Regions from separate parts of the Homo sapiens genome. Here region 2 is linked to region 1. The links come from fine-mapping of genetic effects on gene expression. Tissue or cell type: whole blood. Region 1 holds a variant in brackets; the other region holds the start of a gene. All regions are shown on one strand. Distances are from middle to middle.

Region 1 (8,106 bases):
AGTTTTTATTTTTTGTGACCTTAACGTGTCCATCAGTTTGGATTTGTCTCGTGTCCTCATTATTAGATTCAGGTTATACATTTTTGGTGCTTTATTTATCTTAAGATAATGTTATTAGGTACATACAAATTTAAAAATCCTGCATTTTCCTGATGAACTAAACTTTTTTTTTTAATCAGTATAGAAAGTCCCTCTTTATCTTTTATACTGCTTTTTGTTACCTTAAAGACTATTTTCGTCTGATGTGAATGCAACTTGGACAACTTTCTTCTAGTTAGAATTTGCCTGGTATAGCTGTACTTTTTCTTCCTTTCTGTATCCTTGCTCTAGATGTTTCTCATAAACAGCATATCCTTGGACTCTTGTTTTTTAATCCACTTGACACCATTGGTCTCAACCAATACAGAGTGTGTAGTCTGTTTACATTTAATGTAATTACTGAAATATTGAGGTTTAAATCTACCGTCTTATTTTGTGCTTTTTATGAGTTCCATTTGTTGCATGTGATGTGTTGATTTCATTCCATTCAAAATATTTTTTTCTATTTTGTGATTTCTTACCTGACTCCAGAGTTATTTATATATTTGCTTAATATCCAAATAATTGGGTATTTTTTGGTTATCTTTTTACTGATAGCTTAGTACTTTGAATTATTTCTATCCTTTGAAATTTGTTGAGGCTTGCTTTTACCCATATATGGTAAATTTTGGCAAATATGCTGTATACATATGAAAAAAGATATGTTAGTATTATTGGGTACATTGTTCTAACATGTCAGTTAACTTTGTTAGATATGGTCAGATTTTCTACGTCCTTTCCAAGTTTTTATCTGCTTGTTTTATTAGTATTGTGTGACGGGTGTTAATTCTTCCACTGTGGTTATGGATTTGTCTTTTTCAGCCTTTAGTTCACTCAATTTTTAACTTTATATATTTTAAAACTAAATTATTGGATATTTTTAGATTTAGAATTATTATATTTTCCTCAAGGATTGACCCTTTATTATGAAATGTATGTATCATGCCAGTTATTAGAGATGATATCTCTATCTGATACTAGTATAGCTACACCAGTTTTCTCTTGATTATTGTTCTTTTGATTAGTACATCTTCTTCCACTATTTTACTCTCAATATATCTGTGTCTTTATTTAAGGTGTGTCCCTTATAAGCAGCACATATTTAGTATGTTTTGTAACTCCAGTCTGACAGTTTTAGTCTTTTCATATATTTAATCCATTTGAGTTGATATATACCCTATTTCTATTTGTTTTCTGTTTGATTTTCATGATTTATGTTCTTTTTTCTGTTTTTGCCCTCTTACGGATTAATTTAGAACTGTATTATTTCACATTTCCCCTGTCGTTATATACCTTTTTACTATCCTCCTAGTGAGTATCTTAAAAATTACAATATACATACTTGACTTATGATAGTCTAATACAAATTATAATTTTACTACCCTCTAGATAATGCTAGAACTTTACAACATTTCTTTTTTTATTTTTCTTTTTTGAGGCAGGGTCTCACTTTGTCACCCAGGCTGGAGTACAGTGGCATGATTGTGGCTCACTGCAGCCTCAGCCTCCTCGGGCTTAGGTGATTCTCCCACCTGAGCCTCCCAAGTAACTGGGACTACAGGCACACATCACCATGCTTGCTAATTTTTGTACTTTTTGTAGAGACAGGGTCTCAACCTTATTGCCCTTATTGCCCAGGCTGGAACATTTTAGCTCTGTTATGTACCTTCCTTTTGAGTTACTGGTGTCATGCAGTTTGATTCTGTAGGTGCTTTAAACCCCACAAATATTTTTACTGTTACTTTGTAATACCAGTAGTCACTTAGAAACACCTTTCTAGTGTTTTTGCTTCCTGTCTACATTTTTGTATTTCCTTCGGATAATTTTTTCTTTCTTCTGCCTGAATAAATACTCCCTTTACTATATTAGTTCAGGTCTGCTGCTAATGAATTGTGTTTTTTTGTGGATATATCTTTATTTCATCCATATTTTGGAAGATGTTTTTTCTTTTTTTTTTTTTTAAAGAATTCCACTGTCAGTCTTATTGTTTTTCATTTGAAGATAATATGTTCCACCCCCTGCTATTTTGAGGTTTTTTTTTTTGAAACAAGATCTTGCTCTGTCGCCCAGGCTGGAGTGGAGTGGCGCAATCATAGCTCATGGTAGCCTTGAGCTCCCAGGCTTAAGTGAGCCTCCTACCTCAGCTTCCTGAGAAGCTAGGACTACAAGCGTGCACCACCGCATCCAGCTAATTTTTTAGTTGTTTTGTAAAGATGGAGTCTCACTGTGTTGCCTGGGTTGGTCTCAAACTCCTGGGCTCAAGGAATCCACGCACATTAGCCTCTCAAAGTGGATTACAGGTGTGAATCATCTGGATCACCACACCCAGCAAGGATTTTTTTTTTAACTCTGATTTTTAGCAGTTTTACTATGATGATATGCCACGGTGTGGTTTTCTTTGTATTTATACTTGAGTTTCTCTGAGCTGCTTGATTCTGTATGTTGAAGGCTTTCATCACTTCTGAAAAATACACAACTATTTTCTCTTCAAATCTTGCTCCTGTCCAATTTTTCTTCTCTTTCTGGGCCTCCAGTTATACATATGTTGGACCATTGGCCTTTTCAATGTGTCTCACTTGTCCATTACATTCTTTTTCATTCTTACCATTTTTAACCTCTGTGCTTTTAGTTTGGATCTTTGTTACTGTCTTCCAGTTCACCCATTTCTACTATGTCTACTGTTAAACCCATCTGTTGAGCTTTTAATTTCAATTATATTAATATTTTTTAGTTGTAGAATATTCATAGATTTTTATTTTTTATTTTTATTTATTTATTTTTGAGGCGGAGTCTCTGTCGCCCAGGCTGGAGTGCAGTGCCGCGATCTTGGCTCACTGCAAGCTCCGTCTCCTGGGTTCACACCATTCTCCTGCCTCAGCCTCCCGAGTAGCTGGGACTACAGGCACCTGCCACCGTGCCTGGCCAATTTTTTGTATTTTAAGTAGAGATGGGGTTTCACCGTGTTAACCAGGATGGTCTTGATCTCCTGACCTCATGATCCGCCCGCCTTGGCCTCCCAAAGT[G/A]CGGGATTACCGCGCCTGGCTGAATGTTCATAGATTTTTTAAAAGTAAATTCTACTTCTCTGATGAACTTCTCCGTCTTCATTTATTTTTATTTTTTCCTCTATATTCCAGAACATGTTAACCAGAGTGATTTTAAAGTCCTTTTTGGGAAACTGTAATGTCTGAGTTGTATGTGAATCTGTTCCTATTGGTTTGTTCCTTGAACTTTGGGCAAATGATCCTCCCTTTTGACATTACTAGTAATTTTGATTAAATGCCCAGGCATTGCATATAACAATGGTGGAAACTCCAGATGATGTTACTTTTCTCTGAAAAGAGAAGTCACACTTTCCTCTCTAGACAGATAATAGTAGAGGCTGATTGTGTTAATCCAGTCAGGAATTGAGCTGTGCCAAGACGTGGTTGTGGTTTTGGAAAAGCTTGATCTACCTCTTTCACCCTGTTCCTAGAGTGTAGTCTTTCTAAGGCTTTCAGCTGTGAGCCTGTTTTATTCAACTTTAAGGATATAGCCTTTTGTGCTCCCAGCTTAAGGAGGAGAGTCTCTTTTTTTTTTTTTCTTTTTTTTTTCAGAGTCTCATTCTGTCGCCCAGGCTGGAGTGCAGTGGCACGATCTCAGCTCACAGCAACTTCCACCTCTCGGGTTCAATCAATTCTCCTGCTTCAGCCTCTCAAGTAGCTGGGATTACAGGCACCTGCCATCATGCCCGACTCATTTTTGTATTTTTAGTAGAGACGGGGTTTCACCACGTTGGGCAGGCTGGTCTTGAACTCCTGACCTCGTGATCCACCTGCCTCGGCCTCCTAAAGTGCTGTGATTACAGGTGTGAGCCACCACGCCTGGCTGGTCTCATATTTTGTTTGTTTGTTTGTTTTTTGAGACGGAGTTTTGGCTCACTTCAGCCTCTGCCTCCTGAGTTCAAGCAGTTATCCTGCCTCAGCCTCCCGAGTAGCTGGGATTACAGGCATGCGCCACCATGCCTGGCTAATTTTTGTAGTTTTAGTAGAGACAGGGTTTCGCCATGTTGGCCAGGCTGCGCTCAAACTCCTGACCTCAGGTGATCTGCCCACCTCAGCCTCCCAAAGTGCTGGGATACAGGCATGAGCCACTGTGCCCGGCCCCAGAGTCTCATATGTTTTACTTTATACCATCTTGATTTTTTGTTATTCTTAGGGAAGTTTTCATTTATTCAAGATTATATTTCTGTTTTTTATAGTTAGATTTTTAATGTATCTAGAATTTAGTTTTGTGAATATCATAAAATTAGGATCTTACTATATTCCTTTAAAATGGAAAGCCAGTCGTCCCAACACTATTGGTTAGACCAGGAGTCAGCAAACTACGGCCAACATGTTTTGTTAATAAGGTTTTATTGGAACACAGCCATTCTATTGTCATTGTCAATGACTATTTTCATATTATGCCGGCAGAGTTGAGTAGTTGCAACAGAAACTATTAATATATGGTCCACAAAGCCTAAAATATATGTCTGTTTATGGAATTTCTTTTATTTCTTTATTTGCTTAATGTGTTCTTCTCTCATCATCTCACACTGTTTTTTGTTGTTGCTTTTTTTCTGAGACAGGGTCTCATTCTGTTGCCCAGGCTGAGTACAGTGGCATAATCACAGCTCACAGCAGCCTCAGCCTTCTGGGCTCAGGGGATCCTCCTACCTCAGCTTCCTAAGCAGCTGGGACTATAAGCATGTGCCACCATGCCTGACTAACTTTTTATTTCTTGTAGAGACAGACTGTGTCGCCTAGGCTGGTCTCGAGCTCCTGGACTCAAGCAGTCCTACCACTTGTCCTTCCAAAGTGCTGGGATTACAGGCATGAGCCACTGTGTCCAGCTGTTCTCACACTATTATAGTTATTTTAGCTTTATCCTACTGTATTGGCCTTGAAGATACAATTTGTTTAGTCAGGTTTGCTGAGATATAATTTATATATAGTAAAATTCACCCTTTTTATGTGTACAGTATTATATGGCTGACAAATGTATACGGCCATATAATCACAGTCACTCCAAAAAGTTCCTTCATGTTCATTTGTCAGTCCTCCTCCTTATTGCCAAACCCTGGCATACCACTGATCTATTTTCTGACAGTTGTGTCTTTTTCAGACTGTCATATAAGTAGAATCATACACTAAGTAGCCTTTTCAGTCTGGATTCTTTGATTTTAGCATAATGTCCATTATGTCCATTCACTGGCTGATGGACATCTGGGTTGTATCCAGTTTTTGGCAATTATGAATAAAGCTGATAGAAACGTTTGCATACAGGATTTTGTCTAGACAAATATATTTTCATTTTGGAGGGATAAACACCTAGGGATGAGATTGTTGGGTCATATGGTATGGTAAATGTATGTTTAACTGTATAAGAAACTGCCAAACTGTTTTCCAAAGTGGCTGTACCATTTTTCATTTCCACTAGCAATGTATGAGAGTTGCAAATGCTTTGCATCCTCACCAACACTTAAGTCTCATAAGTTTTGTTTGGTTTTGTTTTTAGTGATTTTAAAAGGTTAGACTTTGTAGTTTTAATTCCTAATGAGTTTAATTCCTAGTACATAGTTTTCATGACTTACTGATGATATTGAGCAGCTTTCTCTGTGCTTAATTTGCCATCTGTATATCTTCTTTGGTAAAGTGACTTTCCAAATCTGTCCATTTTTTAAAATTGGGTTGTTTTCTTATGATCTAGTCATAACTTTTTAATCTGTGTTGGGTATACTAGTTCTTTATCGGATAAGTGTTTTGCAGATATTTTCTCCCAATCTTGTCTTCTCATTTCTTAATAATGGCTTCAAAAGAACAGAAGTTTTTAATTTTGATGAAGTCTGCTTCATCAATTTTTCTTTTTATGTTTTGTATTCTTTTCTTTCTTTATTTTTATTTTTATTTTTTTGAGATGGAGTCTCACTCTTGTCGCCCAGGCTGGAGTGCAGTGGTGCCATCTCAGCTCACTGCAAGCTCCACTTCCCAGTTTCACACCATTCTCCTGCCTCAGCCTCCCGAGTAGCTGGGACTACAGGTGCCCGCCACCACGCCCGGCTAATTTTTTGTATTTTTACTAGAGACAGGGTTTCACCGTGTTAGCCAGGATGGTCTCGATCTCCTGACCTTGTGATCTGTCTGCCTCAGCCTCCCAAAGTGCTGGGATTACAGGCGTGAGCCACCGCGCCCGGCCGATTTATACTTTTTTTTGTGTCTTACCTGAGAAATTATTACCACCTCAAAGCTGTGAAGATTTTCCCCTGTTCTCTTCTAGATGTTTGGTAGTTTTAGGTTTTCCATTTAGTTCTATGGTCCGTTGTATAGATGCATGCTTGTCTATATGCATGTATACATTTATCTATTGATTGTATTGACATATAATTCACATATGATAAAATTCATCTTTAAAGTATACAATCCCATTTTTTGTGTGTGTACAGATGCTCCTTGACTTACAATAGAATTATGTCCTGAAAGCCATTGTGAGTCGAAAATATTGTTAAGTTGGAATGCATTTAATAACACCTAACTTACCAAACATCTTTCTTAGCCTAGCCTACCTTAAACATGCTCGGGACACTTATATTAGCTTACAATTGGACAAAATAATGTAACGCAAAGCCAGTTTTATAATGTTGATAATGAATTTTGAATCAAAATTTGAAGTACAATTTCTACTGAATGCATATGGCTTTTGCACCATCATAAGCTAAAAAAAATTGTTAGGTTGAATTATCTTAAGTCAGGGATAGTCTGTATTCAGAAAGTTGTCCAGCCATTACCACTATCTAATTCCACAGCATTCTTATCACGCTTACAAGAAACCCTGAATCCACTAGCAGCCACTTCCTACTTCCCATTCCACCCAACTTGGCATCTGCTAATTTACTTACTATCATATGGATTTGCCTGTCATGGACATGTTGTGTCAATATAATTAATAAAGTATGTGCCCTTTGTGTCTGGCTTCTTTCACTAATCATGATGCTTGCAAGGTTCGTGTTGCAGCATGTATTAGCACTTCATTCCTTTTTATGACACCACATTTTGTTTTTTCCATTCATCAGTTGATGGACATTAGGATTGTTTCCACTTTTTGGCTATTATAAATAATGCTACTATGAACATTTTCTTTTTTTTTTTTTGTAACTAAACTGAGATGAAGTACCAACAGCATGACCTTTTACCCTTAAATTCTTCAGCATGCATCTTCTAAATACAAGTTCTATAATCACAGTGTAATTATCACATTTAGAAAATTTATCATTGATAGGATACTGTTATCTAATATACAATCCATATTCAAGTTTCACCAATTGAATTAGTTTTTAAACATGTAAGACAATAAACAATTTTATTGAGATGAAATTCACACAACATAAAATTAACCATTTTAGAGCAAGCAATTTAGTGGCATTTGGTATACTCATAATGTACAACCATCATATCTATCCAGTTCCAAAACATTTTCATCACTCCCAAAAGAAATCCTTTACACTTTAAGCAGTTGCTCCTCATTCCTCCATCCCTTTAGCTCCTAACAATCACCAGTCTATGTGTGTCTCTATAGATTTACCTCTTCTGAATATTTCATATAAGTGAAATAATATATGTGACTTTTGTGTCTGGCTTCTTTCACTTTAGCATGATGTTTTTGAGAATTCTCCACATTGTATCATGTTATCAGTAGCTCATTACTTTTTATGGCAGAATAATATTCCATTGCATATGCCACAGTTTGTTTATGCATTAATTGACAGACAGACAATTTCTTTTTTTTTTTTTTCCCAAGACAGAGTCCCACTCTGTTGCCCAGTCCAGAGTGTAGTGGCACGATCTTGGCTCACTGCAACCTCTGCCTCCTGGGTTCAAGTGATTCTCTTGCCTCAGCCTCCCGAGTAGCTGGGATTACAGGCATGCGCCACCATGCCCAGCTAATTTTTTGTATTTTTAGTAGAAATGGCATTTCACCATGTTGGCCAGGCTGGTCTCGAACTCCTGATCTCAT
Region 2 (8,106 bases), 91 kb before region 1:
GACCCTATCTAGGGTGGTGAAATGCCTGAAATCTCTGGGGCTGGAAACCATCCATCAAGGTCTCTAGTAGTTCTGGCCCACCTCTTTCCCCACCCTGGCTCCATGACCCACCCCACTCTGGATGCCAGGGTCACTGGGGTTGGGCTGGGGAGAGGAACAGGCCTTGGGAATCAGGAGCTGGAGCCAGGATGCGAAGCAGCTGTAATGGTCTGAGCGGATTTATTGACAATGAATAAAGGGCACGAAGGCCAGGCCAGGGCCTGGGCCTCTTGTGCTAAGAGGGCAGGGGGCCTACGGTGCTATTGCTTTAGGGGCCCACCACGGGCAGGGGCCTGCTCCCAGCTGCCACGCTCTATCATATGGAGCGAGGTGTTGGGGAAGGCGGGGCAGGCAGCCTGTTGCAGGCAGGGGAAGGAGAAGAGACTGAGGGGCTGTGACCTCTCCTGAGGCCCCCAGCCTGAGACTGTGCAACTCCAGGTGGAAGTAGAGCTGGTCCCTCAGCTGGGGGGCAGTGCTGTCCAGTGGAGGGGAGGGCTTTCACGCCCACCCACCCCCTGGCCCTGCCAGCTGGTAGTCCATCAGCACAATGAAGGAGACTTGGAGAAGAGGAAGAATAACACTGTTGCTTCCTGTTCAAGCTGTGTCCAGCTTTTCCCCTGGGGCTCCAGGACCTTCCCTACCTCCACCACCAAACCAAGGGATTTATAGCAAAGGCTAAGCCTGCAGTTTACTCGGGGGGTTCAGGGAGCCGAAAGGCTTAAATAGTTTAAGTAGGTGATGGGAAGATGAGATTACCTCATTTAGGGCTCAGGCAGACTCACCTCACATACTCCCTGCTCCCTGTGGTAGAGACACCTGAGAGAAAGGGGAGGGGTCAACAATGAGAGACCAGGAGTAGGTCCTATCAGTGCCCCCCAGAGTAGAGAGCAATAAGAGCCCAGCCCAGTGCAGTCCCGGCTGTGTTTTCCTACCTGGTGATCAGAAGTGTCTGGTTTGCTTGGCTGCCCATTTGCCTCTTGAGTGGGCAGCCCTGGGCTTGGGCCCCTCCCTCCGGCCCTCAGTGTTGGCTCTGCAGAAGCTCTGGGGTTCCCTTCAAGTGCACGAGGGGTTAGGCTGCTGTCCCTGAGTCCTCCATTCTGTACTGGGGGGCTGGCTAGGACCTGGGGCTGTGGCCTCTCAGGGGGCAGCCTCTCCATGGCAGGCATCCCTGCCTTGGGCTGCCCTCCCCCAGACCCCTGACCACCCCCTGGGTCCTGTCCCCCACCAGAGCCCCAGCTCCTGTCTGTGGGGGAGCCATCACGGTGTTCGTGCAGTCCATAGCGCTTCTCAATGTGTGTCACCCGGAACCTGGGAGGGGAGGGAACACTGGGGTTTAGGACCACAACTCAGAGGCTGCTTGGCCCTCCCCTCTGACCAGGGACATCCTGAGTTTGGTGGCTACTTCCCTCTGGCCTAAGGTAGGGGAGGCCTTCTCAGATTGTGGGGCACATTGTGTAGCCTGACTTCTGCCGGAGCTCCCAGTCCAGGAGGAAAGAGCCAAGGCCCACTTTTGGGATCAGGTGCCTGATCACTGGGCCCCCTACCTCAGCCCCCCTTTCCCTGGAGCACCTGCCCCACCTGCCCACAGAGAACACAGTGGTCTCCCCTGTCCGGGGGCGGCTTTTTCCTTCCTTGGAGCGTCCCTGACGGACAAGTGGAGGCCTCTTGCTGCGGCTGCAATGGAGGCAAGGGGCTGCAGAGCCCAGGTGCACTGTGTGATGATGGGAGGGGGCTCCGTCCTGCAGGCTGGAGGTGGCATCCACACTGGACAGCAGGGAGGAGGGGAGTGAGGGTAACATTTCCATTTCCCTTCATGTTTTGTTTCTTACGTTCTTTCAGCATGCTCCTTAAAACCCCAGAAGCCCCAATTTCCCCAAGCCCCATTTTTTCTTGTCTTTATCTAATAAACTCAATATTAAGATGTTAGTGACCATATGTTCTTCCTCCCAGGGCTGTTTGCTAAAAAGAACACTGCTTAACCCAAAGGAGTGGCACTAGAGGTGAATGTTAGGCTTGATGATATCTAGATGAGAGAGATGGTTTGAAGGAATCGCGATTTCTACAAAACAACTTTCTTCCTATAAGTTAGCCAGCTTTGCCCTTCCCCCAACCCCATACATGCAAGGAGGCTGGGAGAGGATTGTGCTGGAGGAGAGGATACTCTCCAAGGCAAGCTAAGTCATGCTGGCCCTTGTTTCCAGCTCACCTGGACAGCTGCACTGTCCCTTCTCCTTCACTGTCCCCCAGCATCTCCTTCAAGGCCTCAGCATTGGCTGAGGGAAGAAGGAAAAGAGGGAGTCAGTGGAGGTGGAGGTCAGGGCAAGAGAAGGTTGGAGAAGAGGGAGCAAGGGGCTATGCTAGACCCACCTTCATTCTGGATGATGCAGCGAACAATCCTCTCTACTGTGTCCTCATTCATGTCATCGTCCTCAGCTGAAGGATGAAAGAGATTGGCAAGGAAGCAGGAATGAGTCAGCTTTGGGGGAATATTACCTGGTGGCTCCCATCATTTATTGCTTAGGACATACCCTTTTACCTACTTGCTATCATGCTGGACCTCAGCATTTCAGGGACCAGAAAAGATGGGGACACCAATGCAAGCCCAAGACTACCATCCAGAGGACCGTTCCTGCCCATGCTGCTTTCTCTAGTTTTGCTTTCAGAGTGGTGTCACCCCACTTGCTAACTCAAGAGTGCATCACTAGGCTTCCTGAGCAGGTTTGATCAGGATTTGGCCTGGGTCTGTTGGTCAGGGAGGCAGAGGTGTGGGGAGAAGGGTGAAAGGTGACTGAGCCAGGGTTCCAGGCTCCTCACTCACGGGGCTGAAGCTGGGCATCGTCAGGCTCAGAGCCCCTCGACGTGCGGCAGCGGTAGCCCTTCTTCTTGAGCACGTGGCAGATCATGAAGCCTACCAGGCCCATGAGGAAGAAGACCAGCACAAGCAGGAAGAGCATATATAGCCCATGTTGGGGCGGTTCCAGGTCAGGCTGTGGTTCCGACATGAGGCCCTGGGGGGCGAGCGCGGGCCAGGGCGCCTCCTGGGTTTAGGGGGCTGCAGCTGGGAATGGGGGAGGGGTAGGAATGCCGTCCTCAGGATCTGAAACAAGCACGTCTAAGACGTCCGGCTGAGGTCCGGCCCCACCCCCTACCCAACCAGGGAGCTGTCCGGGCCAGGAGTGCTGTTTCGCCTTTCGGCAAGAGGTCAGCGGCAACGCAAGCTCTCTACCACGACCCTGGTCCCGCTTCCCCGACGCCCCGAGCGTTCCCCTTTCCAGCTTGTTCGCGCTTCTGTCCCTCCCAAGGACACTGCAGCACGAGATGGGACGGCATTCTTAGGCGGCGGGAGCAGAAATCCTGCCTGAGTCAGCGCCCGCACCTCCTCCACGCCGGCCTGAGCCAGGCCTCTGCAGCCCCTTCCTCTCAGTACTCCCGCACCCCTCTCCCTTTTTGGTTTCTCCCACCCTGACCACCTGGCCGACCCGGTACCGGTGATTTGGTTCTGGTTCCGGCTTCTGCTGGGGTTCCGGCTCCAGGGGCGTCCTAGTGCGGCTCAGGGCCCCCGACGCCCTTCCGGCGCTCATCCCTTGATTCCTCCCCTCCCCCTTCGCCGCCTCACCGGCCCCGGGCTGTGGCTGCGGATACCCGCGCCGTGGCAGGCGGGGGGAGGGAAGAACAGAGAAGGATGCGGGCTGGCTGAGAGCGGTGGCAGGCTCCGGGCAACTCCGGCCCTGGGTCAGGGAGATCGCCTCCGCAGCCGCCCTGGCTTCCCAAATGCCTTCACCCGTCGCGGGCCCAGGACCAGGGGGCGGAGCGCAGGTGTGCGGGGCGGAGAGCGTGAGCTCTGCGCGCGCGTGACTGCGCCGGGCCCCCCCGGGGCAATGTGCGGCGCCGAGTCTGGGTCCGGGTAGGGGACAGGCGGTCCGGCGTGGGTGTTGTCCACTGGTCTATCCGGTACGCCTGGCGCAGCTCCTGCCCTCAGATGCCCCGACCGAGCGGAGAGTCAGGAATCTTCTCCGAGGGCTGGGGGAAGCCGGCTTTCCGCACCTTTGAGGGACGGAGTGGCGGGATCTTCGGAGCTTCCTAGAGAAGTGACCACGGCCTGCGCCCGGTTTGGGGCAAGCGGCTGGATGGGATGGCTCGGCTTCCCGAGGATCTGACCCCCGGCCGGAGACAAATGGCCCTCGCATCCTAGGAGCTATGCTGCCAGTTCCCTGCCCAACCCGGGACGCTCAAAGCCCCAGATACCGGGAGAGCTGAGCCGGGCGAGGGGCGGAGCTCCCCTGGGGGCGTGGCCTGGGTGTGGATGGAGGCGGGGCCGCAACGCCCAGTTCCGCAGAGGCCGGCTACGTGCTTGCGCAGCACGCACGGCCGGGGAGGGGCTGGCGGCGGCCGCGGGCGGCGGGCGGCGGAGGTGCGGGGCCTGCTCCCGCCGGCACCATGGCCAAGACCGTGGCCTATTTCTACGACCCCGACGTGGGCAACTTCCACTACGGTGAGGAAACAGGGATATGCATGAGGGGTTGGGACACGGAGGTTTTGAGGCGGGGTTGCAACTCCAGGGGTGAGAGCTGACGAACTCTCTTCTCCCCACCCCCAGGAGCTGGACACCCTATGAAGCCCCATCGCCTGGCATTGACCCATAGCCTGGTCCTGCATTACGGTCTCTATAAGAAGATGATCGTGAGTTCCGCCGCCTCGGCCGGGGGTTGGGGGGTGGGGCGAGCTGTGGCCGTAGGGATAGGTGGGCTGGACTGAGTGCATGAAGTGCGACCCGCCCCTAGAGTATCGGGGAGCTGGATAGAAGTCACCAGGAGTACCTTGAAAGTGCAGGGTGTTGGGGGTGGCGTCCTCTGCTTAATGGAAAGTACTTTCTCACCTCAGGTCGGCCACCCTCTGACTGTAGGCACACTAGCCCTTGGCCTAGGGTTAGCGTGATGTGGGGCTGGTTTGAAGACAGAAGGTGTGTTCCTCCTCTGCATTTTAGAGTGTGGATAGGGCCTTGGCCTCAGGAATTAGGGTTAGGGGAGCGGATATCACTGTATCAGGGTGTGAGGTTTACCCTCAGTTCCCACTCCTCTTTTACCACCTTTCTTTACCTCCAAGGAGCTAGGGCTCCAGGGTGGAACGATGCTGCCGTCTTTGTAAATGTGTATGTGCGTGTGGAACAGAGGCGATATTTTAGATATTCCTTTTTCAGCCTGGAATACCTCTACATGGTTCTGCTTAATCGCTATCCAGTTTTTCATCTACCAGACATACACATGCTGTCTTCCCAGCTTGGAATTTATGGCTGTGATATGGGATAGTAACAGTTAAGCCACGCCAGGCGTGGTGGCCCATGCCTGTAATCCCAGCACTTTGGGAGGTTGAAATGGGGGGGATCGCTTGAGGCCAGGAGTTGGAGACCAGCTTGGGCCACAGTGGGACCCACATCTACAAAAAATAAAAATAAAAAAAGTAGCCATGTGCGGTGGGTGTGCCTGTAGTCCCAACTACTTGGGAGGCCGAGGCGAGAGGATGGCTTGGGCCCAGGAGTTTAAAGTTACAGTGATCTATGATCAGCAGCCTGAGTTGACAGGGAGGACCTTGTCTCAAAAGAAAAAATAAGACAAAACAGCTAAACCCAGGCTTTATGTGTTGCTAGGGAAACTAGTGAACAATATGAATGAATGTTCATTGCTTGTGCCAAGGCACAGACAAATGGACTGGTCATAGAAAAGACTGAGGTGATGTTAGTGCAGGAATCTATATCCCTTGAGATTGTTTGCCTGTATGTACCTGTGTGCATTTTCTGGGAGAAGAAAAGCTCTTTCTTGTGCAGTTTTCAAAGAGGTGTGACACATCCCCCTGACCTTCCAAAGATAATAAATCTTTGATTTTAATTAGAAAGTTGACATATATCCCATATATTTGACTCCAGAAAGAAGAATCCAGAGGAAAGAGGACAGAATCAGAGCTTGGGGGAGGAGATGAGCATGGAGAGAACTGGGAATAGGAGATTCCAAGGAACAGGGCAGGTGGATCAGGGCTCAAAGTTGAGAAGGTACGATAGGCTGAGCTGGAGGTGGAAAGGAAAAGAAGTGGTCTTCAGGGGGCTCATTTGTAATAACTTACCTGGTTAATCGGAGTCTCTCTACTGACTTAAGGATTGTGGGATGAGGGGAATGCTATGTTTGGCTTCATATAGTCTCCAGGACTGGGTTCAGTATGGGTGGTCTGAGCCTGTGGAGTGGGGCTGACCCTGCCTGGGTTCATCTTGTGTCTCCATCCCGAGGTCTTCAAGCCATACCAGGCCTCCCAACATGACATGTGCCGCTTCCACTCCGAGGACTACATTGACTTCCTGCAGAGAGTCAGCCCCACCAATATGCAAGGCTTCACCAAGAGTCTTAATGCCTTCAACGTAGGCGATGACTGGTGAGGGAGGACTGGGAGTTTTGATGTCTAACAGTTTAATGCCAAGCCCTTCAGTGAGGTCTTTTGGCAGCAGTGGGAAGATCTCAAGGGGGGCCTACTTGTCAATGCATCATAATTCATTTTATTTGTTTATTCAATAAATATTTATTGGTCACTTGTTCTAGGCAGGCCCTGTGCTAAGTGCTGGGAATGCAGTGATGAACAAAAACAAAATTTTAATATCGTATTTTTGCTAAGTCTTATAAAGAGGAGGTGTATGACAGATTATGAGAGTGTATACGTGGAGGATTGTTTAGCTTGGTGGAGTGGCTGGTCGGTGGGGCCTTCCTAGAGGAAGTAAAGATTGAGCTGAGATCTGAAAAAAGAGTAGAAGTAATCAGATGAAAGATGGTTGGAGGGTGAGGGGAGAAGTATAGCAGGCAGTAGGGACAAGTGCTAAGGGTCTGTGGTAGGACTGAGTATGACTCATTTGAGGAACAGAAAAAAGGCCAAGTGCAGAGTATGAAGAGGAGGTGAACTGAATTGAGGCTAAAGAAATAGGACCTTTTAAAAGCAAACAGCTCTATTATGAATTGGGGTTTTTACCCGTAGAGTAGAGGGAAGCTATCAAAGTGTTTTAAAAAGCAAGGGATCTTAAGAGGGCTATGGGCAGTTAAAAAAACAAAAAAAACAACGAAGGAGTGGTTTGATATCATTAGGTTTACATTGAGCTTGTATCATCCATAGAAGAGTCAGGGTTAGACCCTCTGGGGAAGAGAGTGGACAACAAAGATAAGCCACACTCTACTCTATATCCATGAAAAAATAGTAACCATCACAGCTACCAGTTGCTCAATTCTACTTACTTTTGTTTTTAAACTTTTTATTAGGGAAAATTTCAAAAATTTCTGAAAGTGAAGTAGTGCAGTGACCTCCCATACGTCCATCACCTAGCTTCAACGCTTATGAGCAAATGGCCACTCTTTTTTTTTTTTTTTTTTTTTTTGAGACAGAGTCTCACTCTGTAGCCCAGGCTGGAGTGCAGTGGTGCAGTCTTGGCTCACTGCAACCTCTGCCTCCTGGGTTCAAGCGATTCTCATGCCTCAGACTCCCGAGTAGCTGGGATTACAGGCGCCTGCCACCATGCCTGGCTAATTTTTGTATGTTTAGTAGAGATGGGGTTTCACTATGTTGGTCAGGCTGGTTTTGAACTCCTGACCTCAGGTGATCCACCAGCCTCAGCCTCCAAAAGTGCTGGGATTACAGACGTGAGCCATCGCACCCAGCTGAGCAAGTGGCCACTCTTACTTCATCTATACTCCCTCATGTTAGATTGTTTTAAAGCAGATCCTAGATGTTATATCCTTTTATCCATAAATATTTTATTATGTATCTCTAAATGATACTCTTTTAAAAAAACATAGTATCATTATCAAACCTAAAAAGTTAACAGTGATTCCTTAATGTCATCAAATATGGGATCAATATTCAAATTTCTGCAGTTGTCTCATAATTATTTTGTAGCTAATTTAAATCCAGATCTAAACAAGGTCTATACAGTGCATTTGGTTGATATGTCTCTTAAGACTTTTAATTTGTAGCTTTTCTGTCACCCCCTTGAATTTATTTCTTGAAGAAACCAGGTTGTTGATCCTGTAGAATTTCTTATGA

Evidence for each region. PIP is the estimated chance that this variant, and not a neighbour inherited with it, causes the effect.
Region 2: RELL2 starts here. The variant in region 1 is fine-mapped to the expression of RELL2 in whole blood (TOPMed, PIP above 0.99).

What each region holds. Positions count from the first base shown.
Region 1 is chr5:141,542,214-141,550,319 of GRCh38, reverse strand. All of the region lies in intron 18 of DIAPH1 (diaphanous related formin 1), which reads left to right. Among named protein-coding and RNA genes, the nearest start is that of DIAPH1-AS1, 12 kb to the left of the region's middle. RefSeq lists a silencer at 2,432-2,632. The variant G/A (reference allele first, on the strand shown) is at 3,102.
Region 2 is chr5:141,633,161-141,641,266 of GRCh38, reverse strand. It overlaps RELL2 (RELT like 2), which reads right to left and starts at 4,270. Exons shown (of 7, transcript NM_173828.5): 1 at 2,858-4,270; 2 at 2,407-2,472; 3 at 2,246-2,312; 4 at 1,618-1,803; 5 at 972-1,347; 6 at 822-855; 7 at 203-596. The coding sequence starts at 3,041. The coding sequence ends at 823. It overlaps HDAC3 (histone deacetylase 3), which reads left to right and starts at 4,418. Exons shown (of 15, transcript NM_003883.4): 1 at 4,418-4,531; 2 at 4,637-4,719; 3 at 6,314-6,456. The coding sequence starts at 4,477. It overlaps FCHSD1 (FCH and double SH3 domains 1), which reads left to right. Exons shown (of 20, transcript NM_033449.3): 20 at 1-1,965. RefSeq lists enhancers at 2,862-2,981, 3,682-3,731, 6,969-7,098 and silencers at 4,242-4,531, 4,592-4,641, 4,651-4,945.